4 separate regions of the Homo sapiens genome follow, and all the other regions are linked to region 4. The links come from fine-mapping of genetic effects on gene expression. A gene starts in region 4. Each other region holds a variant in brackets. All regions are shown on one strand. Distances are from middle to middle. Region 1 overlaps SMAD3 (SMAD family member 3). Region 2 overlaps SMAD3 (SMAD family member 3). Region 3 overlaps SMAD3 (SMAD family member 3). Region 4 holds the start of SMAD3 (SMAD family member 3).

Region 1 (5,000 bases), 63 kb after region 4:
AATATGAAAAGCATTTTTTTAAGACAACTGACTCCTCTGAGTCATGCCCAGGGGAGCAAACGGCCTGAAATATGAGCTTGTGCTTGCTGGAGGAGGATGACAGAGGAGCCTGCTGCTGAGTTCACTGGTGCTGGGGTTAGGTCACTGCTGGGCTGAAGCGCACTGACCATAAGAGCAACATGTGGGCAAGAGCCGCGGCACTGGGGTAATTTATTGCCGCCGCTCGCTTCACCAGGAACCCCACACGCTGGGTTCCCACAGGATGCGACATTCCCACAGGATGGGACAACTGCATGGAAACCCACACTCGGGCCTGTGTTGAGCAACCACGTTTGAGTAAGAGTTATCTTATTTGGCAGGGTGGGTTAGGTGTGGGGTATTTGTCACTGAGAAGCAGAAACTGTATGCTCGACACACACTCCCTGAGTCCTTAGGGAATTGCGTAGTTTTTTTCTTTTCTTTTCTGGGTTCATCTTACCAGCAGTCGTGTTTGAGAATGTGCACAGCTCACCTTCGTTCAGCCCTTTACAGTTTACCTCCATAGCCTTCTTTGCGTCTTGGCACCATCTTGCGAGGTGTCAGGCCAGGTGTTAGGATGCTCTGTTTACAGATGAGGAGATTGAGGCATGAGTTGTGATTGCTCACAATTGCCTCCTGAGTGGTGGGGCCATGCTGGGGCACTGTGCCCAGACTCTAGACTTCCAGGGGTCCGGGACCTCCTGCTGCCAGTCTCCTAGCCCGTTACCACAGCTGTCTGTTTCTTGGCCTCTCCCTAGATTTCTAATGGAACTCTTGGGGTACAGTCTGGAAATAGGTATTTTAAACATGCTTTGCAGTGATTGTTACAGATCTTCATGTTCAGGTGGCCCAGGGGCTGACCCTGCTCCAACTTCCCCCTCAGACATTAAACCTGTACCACCCACTGAGATGGTTTTGATTTTCTATTCTGCGTTTAAGGCCCATCTTCACCCCATAAATGCCAGCTCCCCAAGGACAGAGCCCTTTCCTGTCTTGTCCACACCATGTTCCAGGGCCCTGGACGGTGGTTGGCACACAGTAGGCCCTTGGTAAATGTTTGTCGGATGAGTATGTCTCTTCCTCAGCTCTGTGGTTAGCTGGGAGAGCTCCGACAGTAGAGTCTGGCAGGTCTGGTTCAAGCATCCCTTTGGTGTAACATGGTGTGAATGGTGGGGCCTCACTGAATTGTGGAGTGGGGGGCAGTGTGTCTCCCTACGACCTCCTGGTGAGGAGAAGATAGTCACCACCCACACAGGCACACTCTTGAATATTCCAGGACGAGGTGGGCACTCATTAGAGGGCAGCTCTTACGGCCACTGCCTGGTATGTTTTGGCGTGAGCAGTAGGGTCATCGTGGTGGTCAGTTTTTCCACTGCCATCAAATGGGATCCATTTAGCTCTCAGACAGACAAGGTATAGGGCTGGACTCTGTGCCGTGGGCTAAATACCGGCCACCTCGAGCCTCAAATCAAGCCCAGACACCGGCATAAACCCAGGTGGCCCAAGCCGAGGTCGCTCCCCAGGGCCAGGCTCATGAATGGATAAGTAAATATTTACCCTGTCTGAGGTCGAATGTGAACTGTCTACCAGGTGTTTTGTTTTTCTGTCTCCTCCCTCTGTTTCTGCAGTGCCTCCCCCTGTAAAAAAGGAAACCAAGAGGCTGACAGGTTAAGTGACAGGCTTGACACAGCTAGCCATCAGAACGTCCTCCAGTCCCATCTGAGTCCTGTTCCTCCTCAGGCACCTCCTCCAGGAAGCATTCCCAGATGACTGGCCCATCCTGCCCTTTCCCTCCTCTGAGCCGCACCCTGCAGACGGCCCTCTACCTGTGAATCCATACAGGATGTAGGCAAAGGGGAAGAGGTTTGCTCATCCTCTCTCCTTCACCCTTGTGCATATTAATACTCACCTGGCAATTAGTCATATGCAACTCTTATATTGACCTTACATGTTCCGTGTCTTCTGTGCCCGTCTCTGGAGTTCCTGAAGATGAAGGGCTGTGTCTGCTGCACCTTCAGACTTTTTGAAATTGATTGGTTGGTTTGTACATCCATTTATTCACCCCACCCCTCATCCTACTGTACACGCTTATGGTCAGTCTATTCTGTGTCGGGCTCAGGGCCTTTCTCCCCAAAGTGCGTTCATGTCCAAGGCTAGAGTGGATGGCTAGAGGCCAGAGGACAGCTTAGGCTGAAAGTGGTAGGGAGACTATCAATGAAGCTGGGGGGAGCTGAGCTTCTGAAACTTGGGAATAAATTTTCAGCCTTGCTAATGTGTTCCTCTGAAAAAATATCTTATCAGGCCCTCAGATATCCACCAGTTCTCCCTTTCCAACTTGCAGCCTGCACCCTTGGCCAGGAAGTTCATAGGCAACAAAATAGAATCCACCTTCCCTATCACTCACCCCTTTTAAAATGTGACTAACTCTGAGCTAACCAAGCCTTGGCCAGACGTGGATATGGTTATGCACGGACTCCGTTTTGTGGTTTGTCATTTCTGACTTGCTGGGAAATCCTTTGTTGGGGGTGGGGATGGGAAGTAGAGCATCTCTGGGGCTGGAGTTTTTCTAAGATGTGTAAGATTTAGAGGCTGTCATACTGCAAACAGGGAGAGCGGGCTGTCTGCTTGGCTTCATGGTCAGTGGAGAACAGCCTGGACTTGGAGTAAGAACAGCT[A/G]GGTTCAGATCCCTGCTTTTACTCCTGACCACTTAGTAACCTTGGCCGAGTCCCTCAACCTTTTTGCCTCAGCTTCCTTATCTGTAAAACATGGGGTTCTTGAAGGATTAAAAGAGCTGGTGTGTGTAAAACCCAGGAACATAGTTCCTGGTGTATAGTGACTTATAATTTCGAAAACCTTAAGATTTTATTCATAAGATTTTTTTTTTCAAGGCCAACTTAAGATTTCTAAGAGTTTGTTTTTCAAAGAGCTGGGGTCTTGCTTTGTCGCCCAGGCTGGAGTGCAGTGGTATGATCATAGCTCACTGCAGCCTCAAACCTCTGGGCTCAAGAGATCGTCCCACCTCAGACTCCTAAGTAGCTGGGACTGCAGGTGCACGCCACCACACCCAGCTAGTTTTTAAATATATTTTTTAGTAGAGTGAACCTCGCCATTTTGCCAAGCCTGGTCTGGAACTCCTGGCCTCAAGCGATCCTCCCACCTCTGCCTCCAAAAGTGCCAGGATTACAGGCCTGAGCCACCACGCTCAGCCTTCTAAAAGTATTTTGGTGTGCACCATTAGCACTGTGTCTTAAAGGCGATGTGCACCTTGAGCACAGAGTGTTGAGTGCGTGGTGGATGGATGTCATTTGCGTTTTACAGATGCGGCAACAGAAACTCAGGCCCAGCCACTTACCCGAGGCCACATAGTCCCAGGTAGAGTTGGAATTTGGAATAAAGCCTGCTGACTCCAATCCTAGATGCCTTCCACACTCCTGTCCCCCTACCTCTACACCAGGCGTCCCCAACCCCTGGGACCCCTGGGAAGTGATGTGCACTTAGCACCTCACTATGGGAAACATAAAGCAGGAACTAACAGGACTCCTCTCTCAAGAAGGAATTTCAGTCTACTTGGGGAAAGAATAATAGCCAAGCAGTAACTCAGGTTTGTTTAGCCTTCTAGAGCAGTGTTGCCGGATATCACTGTAGTGTGAGCTACAGTGTATGGTAGCCCCCACTTGTTCTTGGTTTTGCCTTATGAGGTTTCAGTCAGCTACAGTCTGGAAATAGGTGAATATAGTACAGTCAGATGTGTTGAGAGAAAGAGACCACATTTATATAACTTTTATGATAGTATATTGTTATAATTGTTAATTTCATTATTAGTTATTGTTGTTAATCTCTTACTGTGCCTAATTTATAAATTAAACTTTGTCTTGGGTGTACATGCACAGGAAAAAACACAGTGTCTATAGAGTTTGGTACTGTCTCTGGTTTCAGGCATCCACTGGTGGTCTTGGAACGTATTCCCCTCGGATAATTGCAATTACTTCTAAAATCTAAAATCTTCTGGCCATGTTAAAATGTAAAGAGAGGGTGAAATTAATTTTAAATACTATATCTTGTTTAATACAGTGTATCCCAAACCATCATCACTTTAGCATATACTCAAATATAAAGATTGTTAACGAGCTATATTACATTCTTCTTTATCATACTGAGTCTGAAGTTGATGTGTCCTTTATACTTGTGGCACATCTCAGTTTGCACTGTCCACATTTCAAGTGCTGCCATGTGGCTGGTGGCCACCATATTGGACACCACAGCTACAGGATTTCTTCGTTAGGTCAGTTGATGTCACCTGCATTTTGGAGTGGAGTCATTGAGCTCACTGGCTGAGTTACACAGCTAGTGAGGAGCCGGGTGGGACCAGAGCTTGGTCTTCTTCCCATTAAGGAAGAAGGGAAACTTGCATTTGCTGAATGTCTACTATGTCCCAAGTGCTGTGCTAGATACTCTACCTTTGTCATTCCATTTAGTTCTCACAGCAGCCTTGCATGGTGGATGAATATCATGTGCATTTTACAGATGAGGCAACAGAAACTCAGAGAGGCCCAGCAACTTACCCAAGGCCACGTAGTCCCAGGTAGAGTTAGAATTTGGAATAGGGCCTGCTGACTCCGGTACTAGGTGCCTTCCACTCACCTGACCTCCTTCTCTTACACCAGGGGTCCCCAACCCCGGGGCCGTGGACTGATACCCGTGTGCGGCCTGTTAGGAACCGGGTCTCGTAGTAGTAGGTGAGTGGTGGGCAAGTGAGCATTACGGCCAGAGCTCCGCCTCCTGTCAGATAAGCGGCTGCATTAGATTCTCATAGGAGCGTGAACCCTATTGTGAACTGCATATTGGAGGGATCTAGGTTGCACACTCCATATCAGAATCTAATGCCTGATGATCTGAGGTGGAACAGTTTCGTCCTGAAACATCCCCCCCAACCCTCATCTCTGGTGCCAAAAAGATTGGGGACCACTGCCCTACACAGAGAA
Region 2 (5,245 bases), 36 kb after region 4:
GCATGGAGGGTCCTACGCATCCCCAGCGGGGGTCTGAGGGCCCACTGTTGCTCAGCTGGGGGATTTGGGGACGGTGGGAGGGCATACATGGATGGGAGGGTGGACTCCGTTCCTGAGGGGGCCAGTGTGGAGGAGGGTCAGGCAGCCCATGGAGATGGGACAGTGTTCTGAAATGCTTCACAAATGTGGACTTTTGCCCCAAACTGTGGACAGAGCGTATGTCCTGAGCGAGGATCAACTCTGTGAGTACCCATGATAATTCTCCTTTCTGTGGTTGCCGCCCTGTTGATTCATGTGTCAGCCTTAGAGAAAGTGGCTGTGACTTCTGCATTCCTGGGAATACACTGACATGAGAAGAAGTAGCCGCTCTTGTTCACAGTCACAGGGCTGGAAAGTGGGATAAGGACTAAGGACTTCTGTCTCTGGATTCAGCATGCTGATTATGGGGAAAAGCAGACATCAATTCCTCATGTCTTGTAAGCATCACTGTCCTCCAAAGTTGGAGCCCAGCTCAGACAGCTGCATAGTATTTTATAGAGAAGGTGTGTTGTTGAAATGTTGATTATGCAAATTGAATTGTGTTTTAAGACTACTGGGAAAACCATTTAAAGGAATCCTGTTGTAAGTCATTTTGAAAAATGGAGAATTACACCACCTCCCCAAGGATTTTCTGTTTTGGTAAATTTCATGTGGCAAGATTACTTGAAGAAGGGTTCCAGTGTTTTGCTAGCTTATAATGGTTACTGCATAAGGAAGGTTTACTCGCCAGAGGTCCGCATACATTGGAGAACTGGGGGAATATGTAATACTTGTGCAGAAATGTTTTGATTCATGTACTCAGAAGATGGGATCTGGATGACACCTCCAGCCTATTGATTCCCAAGTAAGGTGTGATGACACCACCACCAGCGAGGTGTGCTATGAGGAATTTTTGTTGATGATGAAAAGTGAATGCTAACTGATTGCACACCACGTGCCCCATACCTTACATAGATTATCTTATTTAATTGTTGCTAATAATAGTACTACAGTCTGTGAATGATTTACTTAGCAATTAATTCAAAAGCATATTCCACTCTACAATGGAATATTTTTTGAGCCAAGAAATGAAGTACGTGGCCGGGCGCAGTGGCTTGCGCCTGTAATCCCAGCACTTTGGGAGACCAAGGTGGGTGGGTCATTTGAGGTCAGGAGTTCAAGACCATCCTGACCAACATGGTGAAACCCCATCTCTACTAAAAATACAAAATTAGCCGGGCATGGTGCCACATGCCTGTAATCCCAGCTACTTGGGAGGCTGAGGCAGGAGAATTGCTTGAACCCAGGAGGCAGAGGTTGCAGTGAGCCGAGATCGCACCCTTGCACTCCAGCCTGGGCAACAAGAGCGAAACTCCATCTAAAAAAAAAAAAAAAAAAAAGGAATGAAGTATGTGCCACAACATGGGTGAATCTTGAAAACATTGTGCTGAGTTGAAGAATTCAGACATCAAAAGCCACATATCACATGATTCCATTCCCATGCAGTATCCCCATAGGCAAATTCACAGAGACAGAAAGCAGATTAGTAGTTGCCAGGGATGGAGGAGAGGGGAATGGGGAGTGACTGCTTCATGGATACAGGGTTTCCTTGAGGGATGTTCTGGAACAAAATAGTTGCGGTGGTTGTACAATATTGTGAATGAACTCAATGCCACCAAATTATACACATTAAAATGGCTAACATGGTAGATTTTTGCTGCATGTATTAATATATTAATGTATTAATAAATGTATTAATTACAATATTAATATATTGTGATATACTGTGATATATTGTGATAAATATATCAATATATTGTGATAAACATATAAATTGATTTTAATATATATTAAAATCAAATGTATTCCTCTAATGGTGTCCATGTCACTGACTTAGTTTCTGATAGGTTTGTATTGGGTAGGAAAGAAAGGAATGGGACATTTACGTGTACACTGAGGCAGAAGAAAGAATGGGACTTTCCAATCCAGGCTCTACCTTTATGAGGAACCAGAGACCCAGAGAGTGCTAGTGACTTGCTCAAGGGCACAGAGCAGCGTACCAGAGTTGAGCTTTGGCTTCTAGCCTCCTCACTTTCTATTGGGGAAGTCACAGTGGAAAAGGGGGTTTTGGCTCCTTTATGTCTTTGGGTATGTTCTGGGTCACTGAGGATCAGCTCTATTCCACCTGGCATTTTGTGCTTTCCATGGGTGCTCAGGAAACTGTCTGTCTCACCCTGAGGTGAGGCTCAGGAGGCTCTGGGGCTTTGTAGTAGAAATAGAAATATCCCAAGTCCTGGGTTGTGTCCTTGTGGATGTGTCTAGAACAATTCCTGTTGTGCTACTCGCTTTGGGCAGTTAGCGAAAGGGACTAATTGTGTGCAAATACATACGTTTGGTGTTTGTTGGGAGACTTGCCATGTGACACTGCTTCTTCTTTTCTTCTCTTTTTGACTATGAACACCTGACACTACAGGAAATAAGAAACTTTCCAGTACCTAATTTATGCTTACTCTACTTTCAAACCCTGTTGGCCCCAGCACAGGGTAAATGAAACTGTAGCTTATAGTAATATTTACGTATGGGAGTCAATGAGCTGTTTAAATACTTGGATGTCAGAAAAAGGTTTCAAATTTAGCAAGCCCCCTGACTCTCCCACCCTCTGGCATGTACTGGGTAGGCCTGCCTGCTCTCTGAGGTCGAGCTCTTGTATCCTGTCCTGGTCGGTGCCAGTATAGCAATGATGATGACAGTGATGATGATGCCACTGGAACAGGCTGAGCTGTAATTGAATTAAATATCTGTGTAATCCCTAGGAGAAGCTGAATAAGGTTTGAGGATCTTGGAAGTTCAGTTATACTCTCAGTAACTGAGGTGAGATCCGTAGGCAAGGAATGACAAGATCGAGATTGATTAGCTACATGACCTTAGGAAAGTGACCTAAAGGTTGTTCACATTCAGAGTCCTCATCTTTGAATGTGAATGATATTTCTGGCCTCTCCTATCTTATGGAGTTGGTGTAAGCATCTGCATGAGATGATGGACGTTAAAGTGCTTTGTTAGCTGTTGAGACTCTTACTGAAATGAAACCCAAGGATGGGTGCCACTGAAAGAAACAAGAATGAATGCAAACTAGTTTGTGTTGGGAGTTGTACTTGACACAGCTGAATTTGCCTTTGTCTTTAGGAGAGCCTTAGCTGTGGGAAGCAGGGCTTGGAATGCGCTGATATTTATTTCTTCCATCAAAT[C/T]GGATTATGAGGCACCTGATCTGTTTAAGGCTGTGTGAGTAGAACCAGGTCCTGCCTTCCGGAAGTTCATGGTTAAATTGTGTTTTCATGGGTCACCTGGAAGGCGAGCTTGTTCAGAATGAGGATAATTGACCCAGTGAATCCTTCCTGCCTCGAGGCCCACCATGTTATTCAGATCAGTCTTGGGGGAAATGCTGTGAAAGTGTGTGTGTGTGTGTGTGTGCGGTGTGTGTGTGCATGCTCGCGTGCATGAGTTTGTGTTGAGAGAAAGAAAAAAGCCAGGAGAGTAGGATGAGTCAGATTTAACCACTGTTTTTTCCCTTTTGAAACTTGTTATGTTCATACACATACAGCAGTCATGCACTTGCTCAGAAATGTGTGAAAACCACTTAAAATGTGTGAAATGCAGCCCTTTAGAAAGTGTGCCTTCCACCACATTCTTTTGAGCAGTGGAGTGGATTTGTGAGTGTTCATATCTGTCCTCATCTGTGGGAATTGTATGTCCAAGGTGCTAATTCAGGGCCATACTGGGATGACCTGTGTGTATAGACTTGTCCTGGGTGAGATGGGAGCAAGACCATCCAATGTATGATGGGGAATTCTGTTAAACAGGTAGAATTCTGAACCTCTTGGTGGTCCTGGCTGGTCAGTTGCAGGGAGTGACGTTGAATGGACTGGGAAGATCTGGATATACCATGTTTCTGTAGGCATGATACGTGGTCCCTTAGCTTGGTATTTAAAGTTCTTTGGAAGTGACCGCTTTCTGGATTTACCTCTGTGCAGCCCCTCTGCTCCTCCCAGGTGAGGCTCATCATAGCTCCTCTTCAATGTGCTTTGTCCACAACTGCTGCCATGTTTTAGCTCCCCATTACGTTTCCTGGGATGCTCTCCTAGACTCCTCTGTACCTTTCTTCTTTCAAACCCAAAACAGGTCCCATCTCCTTAGTCTTAACTGTCTATGAATGGTCTGTTGCCTCACTTCCCAGCTCTGGTATGTAGTACGTGCTCAGTACACATTTTTGAATGCATTAATTTGGCTCTTTTCTGTGAAGGCAGCTTGTCTGTGTGTCATTCATCTGCCCAAATTTGATTGTCAACTTCCTTTGTATGGAGCTGTACTGTTCTTTTTGTTGTTTTTCTTAACTCCTTGCCCCTGCCTCCCATCACCCCAGTGGAAGAGTTATAGTCAAGGTAGTGTAGTCAAGGTCGTGCAAAAGCTACACACTTGAACCTGTTCCGTGTGGTTTCACACAAGGCACATGGCCTCCTTGGGACTCACTTCACATCACTCGACAAGGGGATAGCAGGACCCACCTTGACTGTATTGAAGACTGCATGATGATCAGGAGAGAGTGAGGGATGAGAAAGAGTTTGGAAAACAGCAGAACACGATGCAAACATGAGTTATTCATGGTTTTGTGTCCAGGCTAACTGTGCCCTGACATTAAGGCTGGGTGGGTCTGGCCCAGGGCTTCTGGGGTAGGCGCTGTGCTGGTGTGTGCTACTGACCTGGAGTCCAGGATCCCTGAGTCCCACTCACCCTCCCTGGGCTGCAGTTTCCTCAGCCCAGCTACCCTTTCCAGCTGTGACTGCTGGTTGTGGAGCTGAATGTGTGTGGGGTGTGGGCCTGTGTGTGGACTCCCCACCCCTGTGCGGTTTTCCTAAGCACATAGCACAACAAGGAGCTGGAACAGAGCTGCAACAATGAGGAGGGTTTCCTCCAACTGTCAGTGCTTCTGGATCCACCGTTTCGGCTTTGACATTACCGTGAGTGACCACCCTGGACCTCTTTCTTTGTGCCAAACTCGTTGCTGGATTGCCATAAACACTTACTTGGATTGATTAGAGAGGCTATTTGCCGTATTGAAGGTGGCAGAATTATTTCACCTTTTCCAGAGGTGTTGACGTTCAAGGGTAGTTGGTGGTGACTGTACAGAAGGGAGACAGGAAGCCTGGAGGAAGGAAAGGGGTGCGTAGCCGAG
Region 3 (5,000 bases), 120 kb after region 4:
CTATTTTTTTTTTTTTTTTGGAGACAGAGTCTTGCTTTATCCAGGCTGGAGTGCAATGGCACAATCTTGCCTCACTGCAACCTCTGCCTCCTGGGTTCAAGCGATTCTCCTGCCTCAGCTTCCCAAGTAGCTGGGATTACAGGCACCCAACCACCACGCCCAGCTAATTTTTGTGTTTTTAGTAGAGACGGGGTTTCTCCATGTTGGCCAGGCTGGTCTCGAACTCCTGACCTCAGGTGATCCACCTGCCTTGGCCTCCCAAAGTGCTGGGATTACAGGCGTGAGCCACCGTGCCTGGCTGAAATCCTCTAAATAAAAATACTCTGAAAGTACAGATGGATAGGTTGATAAGTAGGCAGTCATTGTTGGAAGAGTGATCTTCTCTTATTTTCATGTATCATTATTCTAAACAATTTAGAAAAGGTAGAAAAGAATTGTCCACTATCCAAACACCACTACTGTGAACCTTCTGCCTTCTAGCCCCCAGAACATAAGTAAAAGATGACTTTGTGAGTTTAAGGAAGATGAAGCTGTGTTACGCATCACTTGGTTTGCTTATGAAGTTATCAAGCTTAGAGGATTTTACGATCCAGAATCACAACTGTCAGAACTTAGAAGGGCTGTAGAGAGATGGCAGAGTGAGGTTTTCTCAGACCTTGTCCTGGAGCCCCAAGGGTTGGCAAAGGGTTCCTGCGGCAAACTCAGGAGGTGGGCAGGTTAGCAAAGGGAAGCCTGGTCCCACGTGAACCAGGGCACCTCTGCACTCGCTTGCTTTATATCTCGGGCTCTCACAGAAGACTTCATTTGAAGAGAGGATTGATTCTGTAGTGAAGAGAAGAAAAGTTTGGAGGCCATGGGCCTAGGTCTGTGCTCTCATTTTCTAGGAAAGGGACCTGATGTCTAGGGGGTTGGGGAGGGTAGGGAACGGCTCTGCAGAGACCTCATTGTCAGTGACAGACAGCCACCACTACCAGACCTGTTGTTCCCATTTCGCTTTTTGTTTTTTACTTCAAAAAAGATACTTATTCTGGGTGGCATACCACTGTTTGATTGATTGATTGATTTAGAGATAGGGTCTTGCTATGTTGCCCAGGCCCAGTCGCAAACTCTTGGGCTCAAGCTATCCTCCCATCTCAGCCTCCTGATTAGCTGGGACAATAGGCATATACCACTGCAACTGGCTTTTTTCTATATTTTATTAAAAAAAAAAAAAAATATATATATATATATATATATATATATATATTTTTTTTTTTTTTTTTTTTGGAGCGGGGAGACCAAGTCTCGCTCTTGTCTCCCAGGCTGGAGTGCGATGGCACAATCTTGGCTCACTGCAACCTCCACCTCCCAGGTTCAAGTGATTCTCCTGCTTCAGCCTCCTGAGTAGCTGGGATTACAGGCATGTGCCACCACACCTGGCTAATTTTTTGTATTTTTAGTAGATATGGGGATTCACCACGTTGGCCAGGCTAGTCTCGAACTCCTGACCTCAGGTGATCTGCCCGCCTCAGCCTCCCAAGGTACTGGGATTACAGGTGTGAGCCACCATGCCCGGCCTATTTTTTTAAGTTACTGAAACGAAACAAACATTTTTGGTCTGGGTCTTCGCATCCCCACCTCTGCCTTCTGCTCTTACTGACATGATACAGTTGTGGACAGCCAGGAAGTCATCCCTCCTGTGGACTCTGAGCCACCAGCACCCTGCAGAACTAAAGCCAGAAAAAATGGGGAGTGGTTGGAGGAAGGGGACAGTAGTGGGAATAGGAGGCAGGACAGGGGACATCCAGTGATGCATGGGTCGGTCACCTCGTGTTCATCCTACCGGATGCTGGGCCTGTAATATCTGGCTCCGTGTTCTGACCTCTGAGCTTCTTCCCCAGGAATGGAGCAGAGACTTTGCCATGCAGGAGAAGGGACCATCCCCTGGCCGAGCAAAGAGCTCATTGTCAGAGTTTACGCAACTGTTTGAGTTGCAGAGCCAATTTAAAAATAATTTCTGTCCATCTGGAGTGGATTTAAGAGATGAAAGAAAAGTAAATGATATAAACCTCTGGAATGTTTTAGAAAAATGCATTGAGGGAAGAAAAAAATAAGGGCATAGCGTTAAACCATCCCTGCAATAAAGGGCTCCTTGGGGTGTCTGCTGCATCAGAAGGAGCCCTGCAGGTTTACTGAATGAATCTCTGAATCTTGGAGTGTGAAGAGACCAAATAATAGTGGGGTAGTAGTAGCAGTAGCAGCAAGAAAAGCTGACACCAGGCACTTACTGTGTGTCTCACAGTAATCCTGCAAGGGTAGAGGTTATCATCATTCCCTTTTTTTTTTTTTTTTTGGAGTTAGGGTCTCACTCTGTCTCCCAGGCTGGAGTGCAGTGGTGTGATGGGAGCTCACGGCAGTCTTGAACCCCTGGGCTCAAGCAATCCACTCACCTCAGCCTCCCAAGCAGCTAGGACTACAAGGATATGCCACTATGCCCAGTTAATTAAAAAAAAAATGTTTTTGTAGAGATGAAGTCTCATTACATTGCCCAGGCTGGCCTTGAACTCCTGGCCTCAAGTGATCCTCCCACCTTGCCCTCCTAAAGCTCTGGGATTATTGGTGTGAGCCACCGCGCCTGGCCCCCATCCCTATCGTAGAGACAAACGAAGACTCAGAGGGTGAATAACTTGACTGAGGCCCATGCCTACTCAGTGGCAAAGGCTGTCACTGAGACCTATCCTGTGTGCCCATCTCTTGTCATCTGCCTCCCTTGGCTTTAGGAATCCGGCAGTGCCCATTTCCCCTACTTTAGGCTTGGGCTTTGGGGCCCGTTTGCCTGGGGAAGCTG[G/T]CAGTCACTGGGAGCAGCTCTGCTGTTCTGCCTCCTTTGCGAGCCTCAGGTGGCCCCAGGGCCATTGTGTGTGAGCAAAGGCACCCTGTCCAGTCTAACCTGAATCTCTGTAGGAAGAGGCGTGCGGCTCTACTACATCGGAGGGGAGGTCTTCGCAGAGTGCCTCAGTGACAGCGCTATTTTTGTCCAGTCTCCCAACTGTAACCAGCGCTATGGCTGGCACCCGGCCACCGTCTGCAAGATCCCACCAGGTAAACGAGCCGCACAGGCACCCCTGCCTTGAGGTCCCTCTCCGAGTGCATGCCTAGGATGCTGGAGAGAGTCCACCTTTCTCACCTTTTCTGCTCACTCATGATTGCGTTGTCAATCTGGAGGTGATTGGATTAGGTTTTCTCTATGCCCACAGATCTAACTGTGCTTTCCCTGAACTTCCAGGGAGCAGATGTAGCATCTGATAGGTCTGCCTTTAACCTGTGGGTACCTGCCTGTTGCCCTGTGCGTAGATGCTCAGGCAGTATGGCTTCCTTTCTTCACTCATTCATTGCACAAACAGCATGCAGGGCTCTGTGCCAGGTGCTGTAGGGGATGAAGAGGTAGATGCGGCCCTGCTCTGCCCCCGCAGACCTTACAGGCCTGCAGAGCACAGAAGACAAAGACACGGATGAGTTCAATATAAGGGACGGGTGCCAAGCACCAAGCCAGCAGCCCAGGTAGAGAGAAGGCCCATTTAGCTGTTGGGATGGATCAGGGAAGTCTTCATGGAGGAGAAACATCCGGATCCTGAAGGATAGGTAGGCACTAGGCACAGGGAGGGCATTCTAGACAGGGGGAGCAGCCCAGGCAAAGGGCCTGAGGTAATGGAGGGCAGGACATGGATGGGTAGCTCTCTGGCTGGAGGAGGGTCATGTATGAGACCGTCAGGGGAAATGTTTCAAAAGCACAACAGCATGAGGCCGTGGAAGGACACCAGAGAGTTTGACTCTAGGGAACTGCTGAGGGTTTTCTGAGTGAGCCTGAAAAATCCCACCTGTACCCCAAGAAGAGGTGTCAGGCTGCACCCCCGAGAGTGGTTTGGACAGGGCCACGCCTGGACAGCAAGATCAGGCAGGTGGCTGATCCCATCTAAGGCCTCTTTCCTCAGGAAACCAAGGCAGAAAGCCCCAGCCAAAGTCCACTTTTCACAGGACGTGCAGCCACTGTGTAGGCAGCCCACAGAACATGGCCTGTGACAGACTAGTGGAGCAGGTAACCTGGCCAGGCCATTGCCTGTGGCACGTGTGTGGCATGCCCCTTCCTGCCCACTGAGTAGCAGATGGTAGTGGAGAAGTGGTAGACCACAGGCAGGGGAAACTTTAGAATGCAGAAAGTCTGAAATGATAATAGCACACCAGGTTTCCAGAGCATTTTGTGGTTGCATTTATAGAGTACATTCCGATCGTTGACCTCATTTAGTCCTCACCAGTTATTCTCTGGCTCTATAAGTAAGGAGACGCTTTGAGAGACAAGTTCAGAGAGTTTCAGCCACCTGCCCAAGCGCACACAGCTAGTAAGTGGCCAAGCCGGGATGGGGCCTAGGGCTGATGGACTCTCAAGTTTGGTGCTCTTCTGCTTCTTGGCTCTGCTGGGGGTCAGGGCCCAGGTTCAGCCCTGTTCCACCACCCTTGTCCTTGGAGAGAATGAAGAAGAGGAAGCTCAGTGACGCTCTTGGCCTTCTGCCTCTTCCATTCCCCGGCCCCACCCCCATCTTTTGGGTGAGGGCTGAGTTGGCTGTGGTGTTGTTTGTCAGCTCATAGAATGTCAGAGCTGGAAGGACCTCTGAGGCCAGCCCTTCATTATACAGAGACACAGGGTCCCCAAGAGAAAGCGACCAGCTCAGAGTCACACAGCAAGAACAGGAGCCTGCTGTTGGCTCATTCATAAGCGTCACCCCGGCTCACCTTTTGGCTATTTCCAGCATGTGCTTTTGTCTTTATTTTTCTGGTTGACACATTCCTGGCACTCAGGCAGTAAGACTTCAAACGACATTTATTTTAAACTTTATTTGTGACTGTCTTTAGTTTTACTGTCTGGAGAATCAGATGCACACCTTCACTTAGCTGTGAATGTCACCTCCACCCAGCCCAGTGCCCAGAGGCCAAAATTTGGCCCAGATCTCTCCTTACCTCCTAGCCCC
Region 4 (5,000 bases):
CACTGCCCAAAGTCAAGATCAAGAGAACATGCAGGGTCTTCTCAGCACTGGAAGAATCAGTTCCTCAGCCCTCCTCAGAGCTTTCTGAAACTGGACTTAGTCCCCCAGTGGAGGGACTTCTCTTGGAGAAACAGGCCTGAGGAGAAAGAACTAGCCCAGAAATGGCACTTATTAGACTTGTAGGTGGGTCCAGCACTATTTTTCTGCATGCACAGCTGTTCTTGTCACACGGATGCCAGCAGGGAAGCATGGTTCTGCCACACTAACTAGCTGGCTGCCTAGTTATTTCCTCCCCTCAGGAAAATGAGAGGGCTGAATGAGGGCCCCTTCCCATACCATGATTTTACAGGGTGAAGTACCTGTCAGGTCCTTCTACTACATGTAATCCTCAAATCTCTCTGACGCTCTTCCTCTACAGTGCAAATCACTCTCCTTCAGCAGACATTGCTCTCTCTGTAACATAAAGGACTTGAACTACAGGAGGACAGTTACAATGCTCTTTCTGGATCCACCACTCTGCACAGTGAGAACCGCTTGCTCCATTCTTACAGCGGAGAGAACGGACGCTGCCCAAGGGGAAGAAGAGAAAGAGCCGGGATTGGAAGCCAGGCCAGTCACTGATGGATCCTGAGCCCCTCTTACTTTCTTTGGCTACCTCTCAATGGTTGGACTTGTTCAGGTTAAGATTAACACTTTACTGGACGATGATGACTGCAAGGCCCCTGCCCATCTTTGCCCACTCAGTCACATCATCCTCATCCCCACCCTTTGATGCTTCTCTAGGCTGTGAACGCCTTGAAAACCTTAGTCTTTTATTTTGGAAGTTCAGGAACTGAATAGGAGGGCTGCAACTCAGAGCTGCTCCGTCAATGTGTGTTAAACTTATTTGACCTCCCTCCACCACTTTTCATGGCATTAGCAATGCAAACCTTTTCACATGAGCTTCCCACAGCCACCCTAGGAGATCGCGAGGGAAGCTACCTCTAGCCCCATTTTACAGGTGAGCAAATAATCCTTGCAGTGTTACAACAGTGTGCCCGTGTAGAGAACTGTTTTGCAAAGAGCTCGATCAATGATGTCATCTTTGCCTTCCGTGACCCAGGCAGCTGGGTGCAGTCTCAAGATCGGAGACTGAGGCTTCAACAAAGTATTGGGTTCAAATTCCAGCTCTGCCACTTGGAACCCTGAGTAAGTAATGTAATCTCTCTGTGCCTCCGTAAACGTGAGGCACAGGAACATCTACCTCACCAACCACTGTTAAGACTGAATCAAAGGGCAGCAGGCGGACTACCCGGAATGAAGAAAGCAATCAATAAATGTGGATTGTGTCATCCTTGTCTCTCTTGACGGACGGGAAGAGGAGAGTGAAACCTAAGACCACAGCGGCAGCGCGTTAACAGGAGGACCAGCAAGGAACGGAAGCCAGGTTGTCAAGCCTCAGTTGGCTTTCACGTATTCTCCTTTTCAGGCGGGTATTTAGGAAGAGAGGAGGGTGAGGAGCACAGCGCACTTCTGCAGCAGCAGCTGCGGATTGGCTTGTGGGAGGCGGTTCTCCGGAGCAAGGCAAGGGCCCCTGCCGCTTCTGGGCTGACTGTGGATTCCGCCACACCTCACAGGGCTTTGTAACTCCCCACCCACTTGAGGGTTCCAGATAACTTTTTTTTTTTAACAAAGCAGGGGTGGGGGTGGGAGATTCCTGCTGTTAAAAACAAACAAAGGGCTTAGACACCGGCTAGTCGGCTGCGGGAGGCAGCAAGAGAAAGGCCGAGGGGCCTGGAGTAGCTCCTGAAAACCGCCGAGGGCCCTGCGGGCAGACGCCCCTGAATTCTTTTGGTGGGGAGAAAAGCCGCGGAGCTCCCCAATGTGCCAATTGGTTTGTTGTTGTTTTGCTTTTTTTGAATACACAAACTCTCCGAAAACTCCTGTCTTGCCCCACTTTTTTGTGAGTTCATTGCTTTGGAAACAAAACTCTCTTCCATTTATTGGCAATTATCAAATTTCCGATCCTTCTCTATCAGGAGATCCAGCAACAAACACCCTGTTATGTAAATTTCTTTCAAAGATAAATTCGAAAGCCCCTCCATTCATTCCTTCAAGAACTCAACAGATGTCCTTGAGGCTCATTTTCTGCCGGGCACTCGGTTCACAAGGCTCAAGAGACCCCTGGCTCCAGCCATTGTCCAGGTTGTCACTGGTGTCCCCAGCTCTCCACTTCTGAGGACCCACTTCTCACCCCCTCCTCCTCCGCACACGTTCCCGAGGCTCTCGGCCGGTGTGATCTCACCGACTAGAGAATAAAAACAGCCCAGGGGCGCCGGCGCCGGCCAAGGGCCTTGACGGGGATCAGCAAGCGCGAGGCCAAGTGCGGGCCCCAACTTCCTGGGCCCGGGCCTTCCGCGCGCCCCCTCTCGGGCTCGGGTCCTCTCCAGGGTGCACTCGCGTCCGGACGACGCTTACTTGCTGCGAGTCCAACCCTCTCCGGCCCGCAACTCCAACCGAGCCGCCCGAGTGTGGACTCCGAGAGCGGACGCCACGGGCCGCGCTCAGCCCTCCCGCCCGAGGCCCCTCTCGCCGTGTTTCCCAGGACTTCCTCCCCGCGCCCGCCCGACTTCAGGTCGGGGCCGCGCAGGGTCCCGCGCGCTCCAGCCAGGACTGCCGCCGCCCGGGTCGCCCACGTGGGCGTGCTGGGCGCGGGGTGGTGGCCGGCCGGGCGCCCTCCCCGGAGCAGGGGGCGGGCAGGGCGCCCGCGGGAGGAGGTGGCGGGGCGCGGGGGAGGAGGCGGGGAGCCCCGGCGGCGAGGGGGCGGTGACAGCACTTGGAAAGGAGGCTGCACGCGGATTTGCATGAAACACAGACTGGGAGCGGGCGGGAGCGGGAGCGCGGCGCACGCCCCGGGCCGGCCCAGCCAGCGAGCGAGCGAGCGGCGAGCCGGGAGGAGGAGGGTGGCGGGGCGGTGAGGCCGCAGAGGCGGAGGGATCTGCGCATCAAAGCTAGCGAGGCGAGCGAAGTTTGGCCGGGGGTTGGACTTTCCTTCCCGGAGGCGGCACCCAAACAGCTACCCCGTGCGGAAACCCAAACTTCTGCTGCCACTTGGAGTCTCGCGGCCGCCGCCTCCGCCCCGCGTTCGGGGCCTTCCCGACCCTGCACTGCTGCCGTCCGCCCGCCCGGCCGCTCTTCTCTTCGCCGTGGGAGCCGCTCCGGGCGCAGGGCCGCGCGCCGAGCCCCGCAGGCTGCAGCGCCGCGGCCCGGCCCGGCGCCCCGGCAACTTCGCCGAGAGTTGAGGCGAAGTTTGGGCGACCGCGGCAGGCCCCGGCCGAGCTCCCCTCTGCGCCCCCGGCGTCCCGTCGAGCCCAGCCCCGCCGGGGGCGCTCCTCGCCGCCCGCGCGCCCTCCCCAGCCATGTCGTCCATCCTGCCTTTCACTCCCCCGATCGTGAAGCGCCTGCTGGGCTGGAAGAAGGGCGAGCAGAACGGGCAGGAGGAGAAATGGTGCGAGAAGGCGGTCAAGAGCCTGGTCAAGAAACTCAAGAAGACGGGGCAGCTGGACGAGCTGGAGAAGGCCATCACCACGCAGAACGTCAACACCAAGTGCATCACCATCCCCAGGTGGGGGCCCGCCCGGGGGGGACCCGGGGTCACGCCGGCCCAGCCCCCTGGCACTGCGGGGCCGACCCAGTGGGGCTGGAGATGGGAAGAGGGAGAGAGAGGGAGGGAGTGAGACTGTGTGGGTGCGTGTGTGTGAGAGTGGGAGAGCGCGGGCAGGAAGGGGGTGGGGGGACCCCAAACAAAACCATCTCTGATTTGCAAAGATCAGAGCCCGAGGCTTCCACGCGGCACTCTGGCTTCCACACCTCACATTCCCTTTCCACCTCCGGGAGGGGAGAGCGGGTTGCTGCGGGACTCGGCCGCCCCCACTCCGGGGAGCTGGGGCTGGAAGTTGAGGCCCGCTTTGTTCGGCTCCGCGGGCCGGAGCCCCTCCTCCGCCGCCGCCTCCCGCCCCCGCGGCCCGCGCTCGTGGAGGTGGTGGTGTCTTTGCGTTTCTTTTCTTCAGTCGGGTCTCCCCACTTTCCTCTACAGGAATGCGGTCCGTACAGCTGGGGCTGTGGGTGAGGAGCGGGAGCCTAGTGATTGACAGATTCCTTCTTCGTTCTTTCTTTGCCTTCGGGATTAGCATTTTTATCGAGTATTTTTAGACTCGGTTGTGCCAGTCTCCCGCCCCCTGAGCATGCACGCACTTTGGTTGCAGTGCAATGCTCTGACTTCCAAATGGGAGAGACAAGTGGCGGAAAATAGGGTCTTCTCCCACCTCCCACCCCCCCATCCCGACTCTTTTGCCCTTCTTTTGGTCCAAGAGATTTTGAAACCGTGCAGAACGAGGGAGAGGGGCAGGCTGCAGCCGGGCAGATAACAAAACACACCCCAAAGTGGGCCTCGCATCGGCCCTCGCATTCCTGTAGAGCCTTCCTTCCCAAAGCGCGCTGCCATCTGTCTGGATCTCCTTTATCCTTCCCGTTGCGCGCTAGCTAGGTCGGGCGGGAGCCCACAGATGGCTGATAGAAGGGGTCAGTGACTTCACTCCCCCAGGGCCTTCCTTAGCTTAGATGTGCCTGGCTGGGAACTGGGGGTGCGGGTACCTTGGCTTCCTGTCTCTACCTCTCAGCCTCCTTTGATGCTGAACCAAGGGAGAGAGCGTGTGTGTTGGGGGCTGGCTCTTTTGGGGGTCCCAGGCTGCCGAGGAATGAGTAGAAAGCACCAGGGACTGTCAGCCGCAAAGGGATTGTCATCCCTGCTCCTGGGCCAGGGTGGACTCCATCCTTGGCCACCTGCTTGGGGCAGTTGTACAGGGGCTGCCAGGCGAGTCAGGCAGGCACAAAGCAACATCTGTCCACGGGAACCGAGGGCAGGCCTCCCCTGGAAATAAATGCCACATATGGTGGGAGTGCGGACTTAAATTTTTTTTAACTGGGTGGATCCAGTCAATAAAGGGGGAGGGAAGGCGGTG

What was found. PIP is the estimated chance that this variant, and not a neighbour inherited with it, causes the effect.
Region 1: its variant is the best candidate, but not a certain one, in a credible set for the expression of SMAD3 in thyroid (GTEx, PIP 0.73).
Region 2: its variant is the best candidate, but not a certain one, in a credible set for the expression of SMAD3 in nasal epithelium (TOPMed, PIP 0.83).
Region 3: its variant is the best candidate, but not a certain one, in a credible set for the expression of SMAD3 in lung (TOPMed, PIP 0.59).

The regions. Positions count from the first base shown.
Region 1 is chr15:67,125,649-67,130,648 of GRCh38, forward strand. All of the region lies in intron 1 of SMAD3 (SMAD family member 3), which reads left to right. Among named protein-coding and RNA genes, the nearest start is that of SMAD3-AS1, 19 kb to the right of the region's middle. The variant A/G (reference allele first, on the strand shown) is at 2,694.
Region 2 is chr15:67,098,783-67,104,027 of GRCh38, forward strand. The region is part of intron 1 of SMAD3 (SMAD family member 3); the gene reads left to right. Among named protein-coding and RNA genes, the nearest start is that of SMAD3, 36 kb to the left of the region's middle. RefSeq lists an enhancer at 2,184-2,333. The variant C/T (reference allele first, on the strand shown) is at 3,264.
Region 3 is chr15:67,181,787-67,186,786 of GRCh38, forward strand. It overlaps SMAD3 (SMAD family member 3), which reads left to right. Exons shown (of 9, transcript NM_005902.4): 7 at 2,941-3,078. Among named protein-coding and RNA genes, the nearest start is that of SMAD3-AS1, 37 kb to the left of the region's middle. The variant G/T (reference allele first, on the strand shown) is at 2,828.
Region 4 is chr15:67,062,757-67,067,756 of GRCh38, forward strand. SMAD3 (SMAD family member 3) reads left to right here and starts at 2,846. Exons shown (of 9, transcript NM_005902.4): 1 at 2,846-3,604. The coding sequence starts at 3,399. It overlaps SMAD3-DT (SMAD3 divergent transcript), which reads right to left and starts at 1,426. Exons shown (of 6, transcript NR_135686.1): 1 at 360-1,426. RefSeq lists enhancers at 1,094-1,864, 3,404-4,172 and silencers at 2,623-3,112, 3,283-3,442, 3,593-3,642, 3,893-3,952, 3,973-4,062.